Regions from separate parts of the Homo sapiens genome. Here region 2 is linked to region 1. The links come from fine-mapping of genetic effects on gene expression. A gene starts in region 1. The other region holds a variant in brackets. All regions are shown on one strand. Distances are from middle to middle.

The links.
Region 2: its variant is fine-mapped to the expression of LINC02348 in tibial artery (GTEx, PIP 0.99).

What each region holds. Positions count from the first base shown.
Region 1 is chr15:101,611,317-101,616,689 of GRCh38, forward strand. LINC02348 (long intergenic non-protein coding RNA 2348) reads right to left here and starts at 3,023. Exons shown (of 3, transcript NR_147041.1): 1 at 2,634-3,023; 2 at 2,219-2,458. RefSeq lists enhancers at 1,014-1,514, 2,333-2,851, 2,852-3,368.
Region 2 is chr15:101,640,719-101,646,091 of GRCh38, forward strand. It overlaps TM2D3 (TM2 domain containing 3), which reads right to left. Exons shown (of 6, transcript NM_078474.3): 5 at 4,369-4,444; 6 at 1,130-1,926. The coding sequence ends at 1,761. Among named protein-coding and RNA genes, the nearest start is that of TM2D3, 9.0 kb to the right of the region's middle. RefSeq lists a silencer at 565-724. The variant C/T (reference allele first, on the strand shown) is at 2,716.

The DNA.
Region 1 (5,373 bases):
AAAGAGCTGGGCGTGGTGGCTCACGCCTGTAATCCCAGCGCTTTGGGAGGCCGAGGTGGGTGGATCACAAAGTCAGGAGATCGAGACCATCCTGGCCAACATGGTGAAACCCTGTCTCTACTAAAATACAAAAGATTAGCCGGGCATGGTGGTGAGCACCTGTACTCGGGAGGCTGAGGCAGGGGAATTGCTTGAACCCGGGAGGCGGAGGTTGCAGTGAGCAGAGATTGCACTACTGCACTCCAGCCTGGCCAAAGAGCAAGACTCCATCTCAAAAAAAAAAAAAAAGGTAGATGAGAGAAGAATAAAGCATAAAGCTAAGGTCTAACTTGCTAGGTTATTCAGGAGGGAGAGAGGACAGAAATTACAAATAAATATTGATATGTATACATACACCCGTACTGTAGATAGGTGTATGTGTATATATGTGCAAATGACTGTATATTATGCATACACATGTGTGTATGTGTGTGTGCACATGGTATAAATGTGTGTATATGTACATATGTATTTATACACACATGTATCAACTCCCATAAATGCACAAGGCTCAGCCTGACCTGTCATTTAACCAAACACCAGACAGTGCCTTCCCAGAACATTCTACCCTCAAGGCAGAGTGCCTCCGTGACACGCAAGGCAGGGGGCCAGCTGCAGGCGCCAGGCCAACAGGATGAATGTCTCAGGTTTTCACGCCCCTGGTGGCAGGGCAGGCCACTGTGGGCCTGCTCTCTTCTCATCTTGCTGTCACTTTAGTGTCCTTGAGGTGCTGAGGACTCTCAGTTTGTATGTCCAGCCCAACAGCTCCTGGGCTCTAGACCCAGAGACTCAGCACTGCTCGATACGGGTCCCGGGCCCACAAGTCCCCTCTACCATCCTCCTCCCACTGTGCATCCAGAAGCCTGGGTGCTCCCGGACACCCCTGCTCCCCACATGCCCATCTCCCACCGTCTGCTTGGTTTTCACTCCTAAACAGTCCTTGGGTGCAGCCACTTGTCGGCATCACCACCACCCTGGGTCATACCCACTCTCGCTCTCCAGTGAGTGCAGCCAGGCTGCTGTTTGCAGGACTTAACTCTCATCCCACCAGCTGTGGCTGCCCAGCTCCTAAAGCAACACTAGGGCCCTGGGTGGGGCCTGCAAAGGCTGCGAACCCAACGCAGCTCCCCCTCTCCTAGCCCGGAGCTGGTTCCTCCTCTGTCCTCCAATGCCCCAGCCTCCTCTCTGCGTGACTGCTATATTACCACCTGACCCCTGCTCCCCGGGGCAGGGACTTTCTTAGAAGAGACTCTCCAGACAGCCAAGCACAATTGGAAGCAGCACCTGCTCAGATCTTCCAAACTGAGGCTTGGTGAGGCCTCCATTGGGAGCACTTCATTGACAAACGTTTGAAATTCTGAAGATGACCTCCGTGGGTGCTGGGGAGGGGACCTGGGGCTTGGCTGAGGCCCTGGCCCTGGTGAGTGAGGCCCTCCGGCTGGGCACCTCTGGATATTGGCTGGGAGGGCACCCAGGGCCGGTTGAGGCCGCAGCTTGCTTTTCGGCCTCTCCTTGCTGCTCCCTCCCCACATGGCCTTGGGCAGGTGACTGCTAATGTCGGTGACCAGGCCAGGCTGCCGCCACCCCCACCCCATTTCCCAAGCCTGGCTGCTGGTGGCAGGGTCTGGTAGAAGTGCTGTGGCCTCCACGCAGGCATCCCTCTCCATGGGATCTCCATGGAAGAGCGTGTGCTGGTGCCTGGGTGTCGGGACCCCATAAAAACCACGGGTGACCCCTGTGCAGGGGCTGGGGCTGCTGGGACTGTGGATGGTCCCCCTAAGCCCCATGAGGCACATTTCCCAGGCATGGCAGCATGGCGGTACCTCTCTGGGGCTGTCCCTTGTGCATGCACTCTTACTCCAGCAGTCTCTGGTCCCTCTACCTTTCTCTAGTGGCCCTCGGGCTGAGAAACCATGAGAGTGTGTCCAAAGCAGGCAGCGGCCTTAAAGAAATGCCAGCCCACCTCCTCCCCACCTAGTGTCCAAAAGAGCTGCATGTTGGAAGCAGGGGTCTGTGCAGCCCTCCCCTCTCCCCTGGTACACCCTACTTGGGGAGCAGATTTGCCTGGGCAGGTCTGCACGGGGTCTGCTCCCTGGCCCAGCAGTCACTGGTGAGACACCCAGCCCTGGCATCCTCTGTTCCTAATTCCCATGAAGGTGCCTTTTGTGGCTGCACCTACTTGCATAAGGACTGAGGCATCGGCCAGGAAAAGACGTCAGGCTTGGCCAGCTCCATCTAGCAAGACACTCCAGGTCACCGGGGAAAGGGCTTTTCACTAAAGCCTCCAGGGAGACTTTGGAACATGAGCAGCACAGCTTGGAGACGAGCCAGCAGAGCACGTGACAGCGAGGAGGCAGCCGTGCACGTCGTCACCCAAGCCCCAGGCCACAGCATCCACGGGAGAGACTTTCCTGCAGCACTGCGTGTTGGGGGTAGGGAAGAGAACAAACTTAATCCTGGGCTGTTACGGGAAGCCCTGACGAGCCCCAGGAATATCAGGGACTGCAGGAAGGGTTCCAGTGTCACTGGGGAACCCGGATTCCCACAAATGCCTTGCTTCCCACAACCCGGCCTCCTGGTCCCACATGCCTCACCTGTTGTTCCAGCCTCTGCACCTGCTCACATCTCTGGGGAGTCACCCGATGGGGCTCCCCAGTCCCCGCAGCAGCATTTTCCTCTGACTCTCAGGGCCCTGCTCTGCCTTCTGTGCTCAGCAGTTGTTTCGGATTGGGAGTCAGGAGGCCATTCCCACACTTGAAACAAGGCTGCAAGAGGAGGCTGAGCAGAAACCGCACACCCCGAGGGCAAGGCGACATGCTCATTGCCCTTGCGCCCTTCCTCCTTCCCCAGGAGCAGGACTTCTGGCCGCTCTGAGTGCACGGGTGACGGCTGCCGTTTATCAGCCTTCAAATTTGTGCCCGAATCACCTGCTTCCAACTCCTCAAATACAGACTGGCTTAGCTCAGCCTGATTAAGACCAAATTAGGAAGGGCAGCTGTGTTCCACCAGAGCCCAGGGAGCCAGGCAGAGGGCAGGAGGATCAGGCCACCAAAGGTCACCTACACACAAGCCCGTACCGGTGATGTCATCGTGGATGGAGGAGATGGGCTGGCATTTTTTAAGGCTGGCCCCCTGCCTGGGACACACTCTACATGTTTCTAAGCCTATGGGCCACTGGGGAGAGCTGGAAGGAGCCAGGCACAGCCACAGGGAGGTGCCACCATGCTTGGGAAACACCTCGTGGGTCTGGGCTGCAAATGACCATCCACAGTCCCAGCCCTGGCAAAGGGGTAGCTCATGGTCCTTATGGGGTCCCGACACCCAGGCACCAGGACACGCTCTTCCACGGATGCAGGTTAGATAAGAAACCACCTTCAGGACTCTCCTACACATCTCTTCACACCTGTGCACAAAGGAATCAGCAAAAGATCCCCTCCCAGCCTGCTGTGACCGCAAAATTCCATACCCAAGACCAGGGCTGCTTAAATAATTTGAGCTCTGCAATGGAAACCTACAAAGCCACTAAAAGCAGCAGAGAACGCTGGTGAGCAGCTGTGAGTGGCAGCTGAGATTCATTACAGTTCCACAGTCGGACTCGGGAAAATGCTTCCGTGTGTGTAGCAGGCTGTGATGCGGTGTGTGGTCCCAGCTGAGGCCCCCACACTGACAGCAGTAAGAGCCGAGTATCTCACATCCTAAAGATGCCGGTCCGTGCCCGAGAGCAGATAGTCTATGAGACCTTAACCGGGGCTGTCCCAGATGCCACTCTGAGCCCTTCTGGAAGGGTGAGTTTGATCAGGGAGATGGCGAGGGAGGAGTCCTTGTCCAGGAGCTTTGGGGACAGTTTGACAGGAGCTTTTGGGATGTCAACCTTGCTCCTACCATGGGGAATGCAGAAGGGGGCTCCCCCCCCCACCTCTCCTCACATCTGCTCCACCTCAGCCCAGATCAGAGGCAGGGAGGAGAGCCTTGAGGAGCCCCGGAGTTGGGTGCACTGACTGGACCCCGCCCTGAGTAGAAGAGGGAGGCTGGCCTGGAGGGGCTGCAGGAGAACAGCAGAGTTGCTCAGCAGGACAAAGGAGACACTGCGGAAGGGGTCTGAGTTCAGGTCATCTTGACTGGTTTCCTCAGCACGGCCCATCATGAGGCAAAACCCTAAACGCTGACTCAAAGTCTGGGAACGGAATGGGCTGTTTTGTCCTTGGCTAGAGCCCTGCCAGCTGTCCCGTTCCCTCTAAGTGCTGCATGCACTGTGGACGTGGCATTCCCTCTAAGTACTGCATGCACTGTGGATGTGGCCTGCCCTCTAAGTGCCGCATGCACTGTGGACGTGGCATTCCCTCTAAGTGCTGCATGCACTGTGGACATAGTGTTCCCTCTGCCTGGTCCTCCTATGTGAAATCCCCTTCCCAGCCAGCCAGCGCCCCCACCTGCACTCCTGGCCCCACCCTTGAGGTCCTTTCTGGGGTGGCTGAGCTCTTCTGCAAGACCTGTGTCCGGGCTTCCCTCCACCACAGCTCAGACCCTCCCAGGGGCCCATGTCCATGTCGGTAGAATGCATGAGGGACGCCCAAGCCCATTCGGTCCCAGATGCCTCCTTCGAGGCAGGGCCGTGTGTGTGTCATCAGCATCACACACTCACACACACTCACCCGCAGGCAAAGCCCCTCCCTGAGCCCAGGAAGGCTCCAAAAGGGGCGTGGTCACAGCCTCCTGCGCCTTCAGGGGCGGGAACCCAGAGGAAGAGCAGCCCACGTGCGGACTCCGCAGGAATGAATGGACACAGTTGGGAGGAGAGGGGAGTTTCTTGGAAGTAAATTCCCCCTGACATTGAGATAACTGGTTCAGGGTCCCATCCACAGAGTACGTGCCTGTTAGCAGGGCAGGAGGCCAGAGGGCGGGGCCTCGGGAAAGCTGCCCAAGCTCAGCAGGGACTCCACTGCTCACAGAGCAAGCAGCCCGACTTGTTCAGCTTGGAATCTGGGCTGGGACCGCTGGGGTCAGCAAAGAAGATCTAGGAGACATCCCATAAAATATCAGACTATCAGGATCCAATATAATACGTGTGATATTGAGCTCATTGCACAGAAGCTACAAGTAAACATTGGGTTTAGGCCACTCAGGGAAAAATGACGGAGCCTCATTTCCATAAGGAGCTGGCCTCATTTGAAAGCTTTCCACCCCACCTCTCGCCTCACCTCCCCCGCGCTCCTTTCTTGCTTCATAAACTTTCACCACTGCCATCGACCAAAAAGCAAACAGAGACTTGGAAACCCCGTGTACAACACGTACACTGCGCTCTCGTTGATCACTATTGGGTAAACTAAAATGTAG
Region 2 (5,373 bases), 29 kb after region 1:
TGTCTCAGGCCATCAGCTCTATCAAAGTCCTTGATCTGAAGCATTCCTGACTGGCTTACATCCTTCAGGTTCCAAGGGCTATGCCCTTGTGCAAACTTTTTAGGATTTGGGAACAAGTTCATTTATGCCTCCTTTCATGGATTCTGAATCTTTGAGCTTTACTCTCAGACACTGCAGCTTCATTATCTAATTCAGGCCCCAGAGCCACAAAAATGGTTAATCAAGGATGCTGTTACCTATTTCCACCAAGGGCAATGCATACTTCCTACTAACTTCCCACCGACTCCCTGGTTCCACCTTGCATGGTTGCTCAACAGGGAAGTATTAGATTCTCTTCTACACAGAGCTACATAAGGAGACTCAGGAGACATTTTTATTATAGTTAGCAAAGGGGCTACTTCTTGAAGAAAAGATCGTCTTCTAAAGAAACACCTGCTCAATCAACAGTTTAACGGATACAAAAAGTGTGTCTTTGCTCTCAGAAAGAAAGGTCCACATAAACCGGGTTACTCCCATCCTGAAGAACTGCTCATGCTCTGTGACAAGTTCCTCGTAAACAAAACAAAACAAAACCAGTTTTTTTTTCTGTTTCTGGAACTAGAATGGGGAAGCAAATGTAATGGGGATGCGCCACCTAGCGACGAGAGATGGAACTGTCACTCAACTAAGAAAAGGACTGTGCTTTAAACAGCAGCAAGTGATCACTGAAACCTTTCAGGTAAACTGAAATCAATAAATCATCTGCTGAATGAAATATGCAGATATTTTATAGCTTCTAGATATGATATGGTGGTTAACAGTCTTCTGGATAATACACACAAGTGTTTAAAAAGCAGTAACTCAGATACCCACATTTGAAAGAAAAAATGCTAAGTTTTTAAATGTTTCAAAAGCAAGCTTGAGTAAAAATCTTTTTGAATAACTGAGTTTTTTTTCCCCGATAAAGGGTCTATAACAGATCTATACTCAAAAACATTTATATATTTCCACTGTGTCAATAAACCAGCCAATTATGACTCTGTTAGAATGGAGTAATGCCCTGAAAGATAAAAATGTTATTCTTAACAATAAAGGTAAGTTGTAATGATTATTCAAGATTATATTTAATATAGAAAACAGGCCCACAGTATTTCTTAACTTGCAATTTTATTAATTTTTCAGTACTCTTACCTTTTATATACTACTAAGAAAATTTAAACCATAACTAGACATAAACATTCTGCAGTTTAATTCAAATTTTCATATATACAGACCAGACTACATATGTATTACACTGCAAAACTTACACATGACTGAAGCTGAGCCTAATAACTTCAATTAGCCAACAACAGAAACACTCCCACTTCCTGCAGTCACAGCAATTAGCTAACAATAAAAACACTCCCACTTCCTGCAGTCACAGCTGAAAGACTTTTCAAGGCAGACTACATTTGGGCTGGAGATACAAGTGATGTAGTTTGACTTGGGCAATACAAAACAAAAGTCATAGGAATTAAATGGATTTTCAATCACTGTATAATTCATTCTCCTGGCTTAAGTACGTTTTAATTTTTTCACAGAAAAAAATATATTTCAGGCAAATAAAAACAAATTCCAGATTAGCATAGTTCAGCGTTTCATTTATCTTACCTTTATCAAGGCAAACAAAGTACAGATGCTGTACATTAAAAACATAGAAATATATCACTCACACCACATCAACTCCTACGGACAAAAGGGCTTTTTCTAAGCCCTGCTCCTTTCTGAAGCACACACCACAGCTAAATGTACAAAGAGCCATCTGCTGGTCCAACATAGCCAACTCCAATGAGCAGGACGTCTATCAGCGTCCATATTCCCAGGCCACCGAAGCTGAAGAGCTTGCCGAGGCCTTCCCGCCACTGGCCCAGGTAGAAACGGTCTGCTCCAAACCCACCGAGGGTGATGCTGCGATGGCAAACAGACAGGATTCCATGAGACCACCTCCACCCCAGCTGTGGCCAGTCACGGTTTAATCACCACATTATGTCAGATTTGAGAAAGGGCTTCCCCTGATCGTAGCCCTTAACTGGAACACAAGTGACTATTTCACAAACTGACACCACCAAATAATTACGGGCAGGAAGACAGTTTAAATGTCAAAAGTAAACATACAATTTTTAGCTGTACTAAAAAACCAATGTTTTCTTTTTTTAAAGTTATCAATCTCATTGCTTTTTAGTCAAAATAAAGCAAAGACCCAGTCTAACAGGAAGTGCACTAACACGGGGTCAGGGCTGGAGTCAGGAGGAGCTCACCACCACCTGGACGACCTGGATCAAGTCATCCATGTTTTCAGTCTATTTTTTCATTCATCTCTAAAATCTTAATGTTAGGAATAAATCCTTAAAAGATTTAAGGATCTTTTAAATTCTAAGATCTAATAATACTGAAACTATATTATGGAAAATTTCTAAACACCTAACAATAAAAAGTAAAGAGAACAGTACCCATGACTCAGCTCCAATAATCAACACTTGGCCAGCTGTGTTTCATCAAAACCCTCCTCTTTCCCCTCCAGAGTACCCTGAAGCAAACCTTGGGCATCATCTCATTACAGTGATGATTTTAAAAGAAACCATGTTGCCGGGCGCGGTGGCTCACGCCTGTCATCCCAGCACTCTGGGAGGCTGAGGCAGGCGGATCACAAGGTCAGGAGATCCAGACCATCCTGGCTAACACGGTGAAACCCTGTCT[C/T]TATTAAAAATACAAAAAATTAGCCAGGCGTGGTGGCGGGCGCCTGTAGTCCCAGCTGCTCGGGAGGCTGAGGCAGGAGAATGGCGTGAACCTGGGAGGTGGAGCTTGCAGTAAGCCGAGATTGAGCCACTGCACTCCAGCCTGGGTGACAGAGAGAGACTCCGTTAAAAAAAAAAAAAAAAAAAAAAAGCAAAAAAAAAAAAAAACCATGTTGAGTGCTGAGAAGTTTTAATTGTTGAAAGTATGTTACAGTATAGTACTGTAAGAGGTTAACAATGTAGGGAAACCAGGTTAGGGGTATATAAGAACTCTACTATCTTTGCAACTTTTCTGTAAATTAAAATTATTCCAAGTTTCAAACATTTATTTATTTTTTTAAAAAGCCAGTTGTTAATTTGAACCATTGTCAGCAATGGTTACTAATCTTTTTTTTTGAGACAGAATCTCACTCTGTCACTGAGGCTGGAGTGCAGTGGTGCAATGCCAGCTCACTGCAGCCTCCTCCTCCTGGGCTCAAGTGATCTTCCCATTGCAGCCTACCACGCAGCTGGAACCACAGACATGAACCACGATGGCAGGCTTTTGTATTTTTGGTAGAGATGGGGTTTCACCATGTTGGCCAGGCTGGTCTTGAACTCCTGACCTCAAGCAATCCGCCAGCCTCGGCCTCCCAAAGCGCTGGGATTACAGGTGTGAGCCATCGCGCCCGCCCTATCTTATTTTTGTTAGTCTCATTTTCTATCCTGGCACCCTCTTTTACTTTTCAGTTACACTTTTCCTGCCAGGCAAGATCCTTCTTTCCTCAGCTCAAATTCTAATGCAGTGGTTCTCAGCAAGGGGCAATTTTGTCCCCTAGGGGACACCTGGCAACATCTGGAGACACACTGTCACAGCTGCAAGGGATGGGGGGTTTGCTACTGACAAGTAGTAGGTAGAGGCCAGTGATGCTGCTCAACACCCTGCTATGCACAGCACAGCCCCAAGACAAAAACTCATTCAGCCCAGAACGTCAGCAGTGATGAGGCTGAGAAATCCTGCCCTATGGCTGCAATGCTGCAGGCCTCAGGGTCTCAGGCACGAACTCAAAACTTCAAGTGTAGGCAGCGTAACCTTTTCACTAATCAGTTAACCAGGGTCTTACCTGCCCTTCCCTTTGGTGGGAAGAACTGCTATAATTTCTTAAAGTACTGTTGAGAAGTTTAACAAACAGCACATTTCTATGTAAGAAATATAAGCCTATAATTATCTGCTGCTGATGAAATTATAGGTAATTTTTAATGTTTTTGTCATTTTCATTTTTCCAGTTTTCAGTGTTCATCATGTATTACTTTTTATAATAGTTACTTAAAATTAAAGATATACATCATAAAACTGCCTATTTTGGATAGTCCACAGCATTTTACTGATTCGTGGTACATTCAGAATGGTAAACGTAATGTGCAGGCATCTTGGGAGAAAAGCTAACATGCCTGCCAGTCAACTCCACGGAGGTACTGGTCTGATCATCTAAACTCTTCCAGCTGTTTGCTAGAGTCTAACACACGTGGTAGGATCTGAGTGAAGAATGAAGGGGACTGAGCTCAATGTCTGAAGATTCCACCAATCCCAAAGAAATGCAAACGGCCTTTTACACTTACGAGTAACAAGGCTTACCTTAGAGCCAGAGCCGTAGACCACTTATAGCCTCCAGTCCAATTGCAATATAGCATTTTGGGAAAAGTACGGTTACCTTAAAAAAAAAAAAGAAAGAAAAATACAGGGTATAAAAAATACTCTCAGAAAGACTTAATTGTAACAAATGGGCTCAAAATTTAAAATGTGAAAAGTCAACTCTCTTTACGGTAATACATGTTGAAGTGAAGAGTACAAAGCGCTTACCATCTATCTACATAGATGTAATATTTAAATCAGCTAAGTTAGGATTACAACGTGAGGAACATGAAATGCTCACCCACATATCAAGACCTACGGGGAAGTTACGAGTATATAAGACAGTGTAGTCTTGAGGCATAAAAATCACCCAATAGGAAAAGAAGAGAAAGTCAAGAACCAGAAATATACAAACACTTCATGTATGAGTGTTATGACAGAGGTCACACACGGATCAACAGGGAAGAGTTGAGACAACTGGCCATCCATGTGGGGGGACAATTAAAGTAGAATCTACCTCACACCATCTACCAGGACCAATTCCAGGTGGATTCTAAACCTAAATGTGAAATGTTATACTTACAACTTTCAAAAGAAAATGTAGCAAATTGTCTTTATTAACCTGGGGTAGAAAAAGATTTCTTAAAACCACCACAAAAAAGGACTAACTCTAATAACTTCCAGTAATTATATTTTTAAAGTTCTGTTCATGAAAATATACAATAATGCAAAAAAAAAAAAAATCAAAATCTGGGAGAGGGTTTCAGGGACAGCACAGGTAATATCCAAAATATAAAAGAAGTCTAGACAACTTTAAGACCAAATTTAAGAATAACCACTCTTGGAGAGAATATGGCTCATCAGGAACAGTTACATAGCGCGGGTGGGAATGCCAGTCAATACAGCCATTTAAAGAATGACACACGCTGGAAAGTACATGCTGAAGAAGCTCTTGCACCTGTGCCATTGGGAGACAGGCAAAGAAATTTGAACAGTCACAACAGCGGA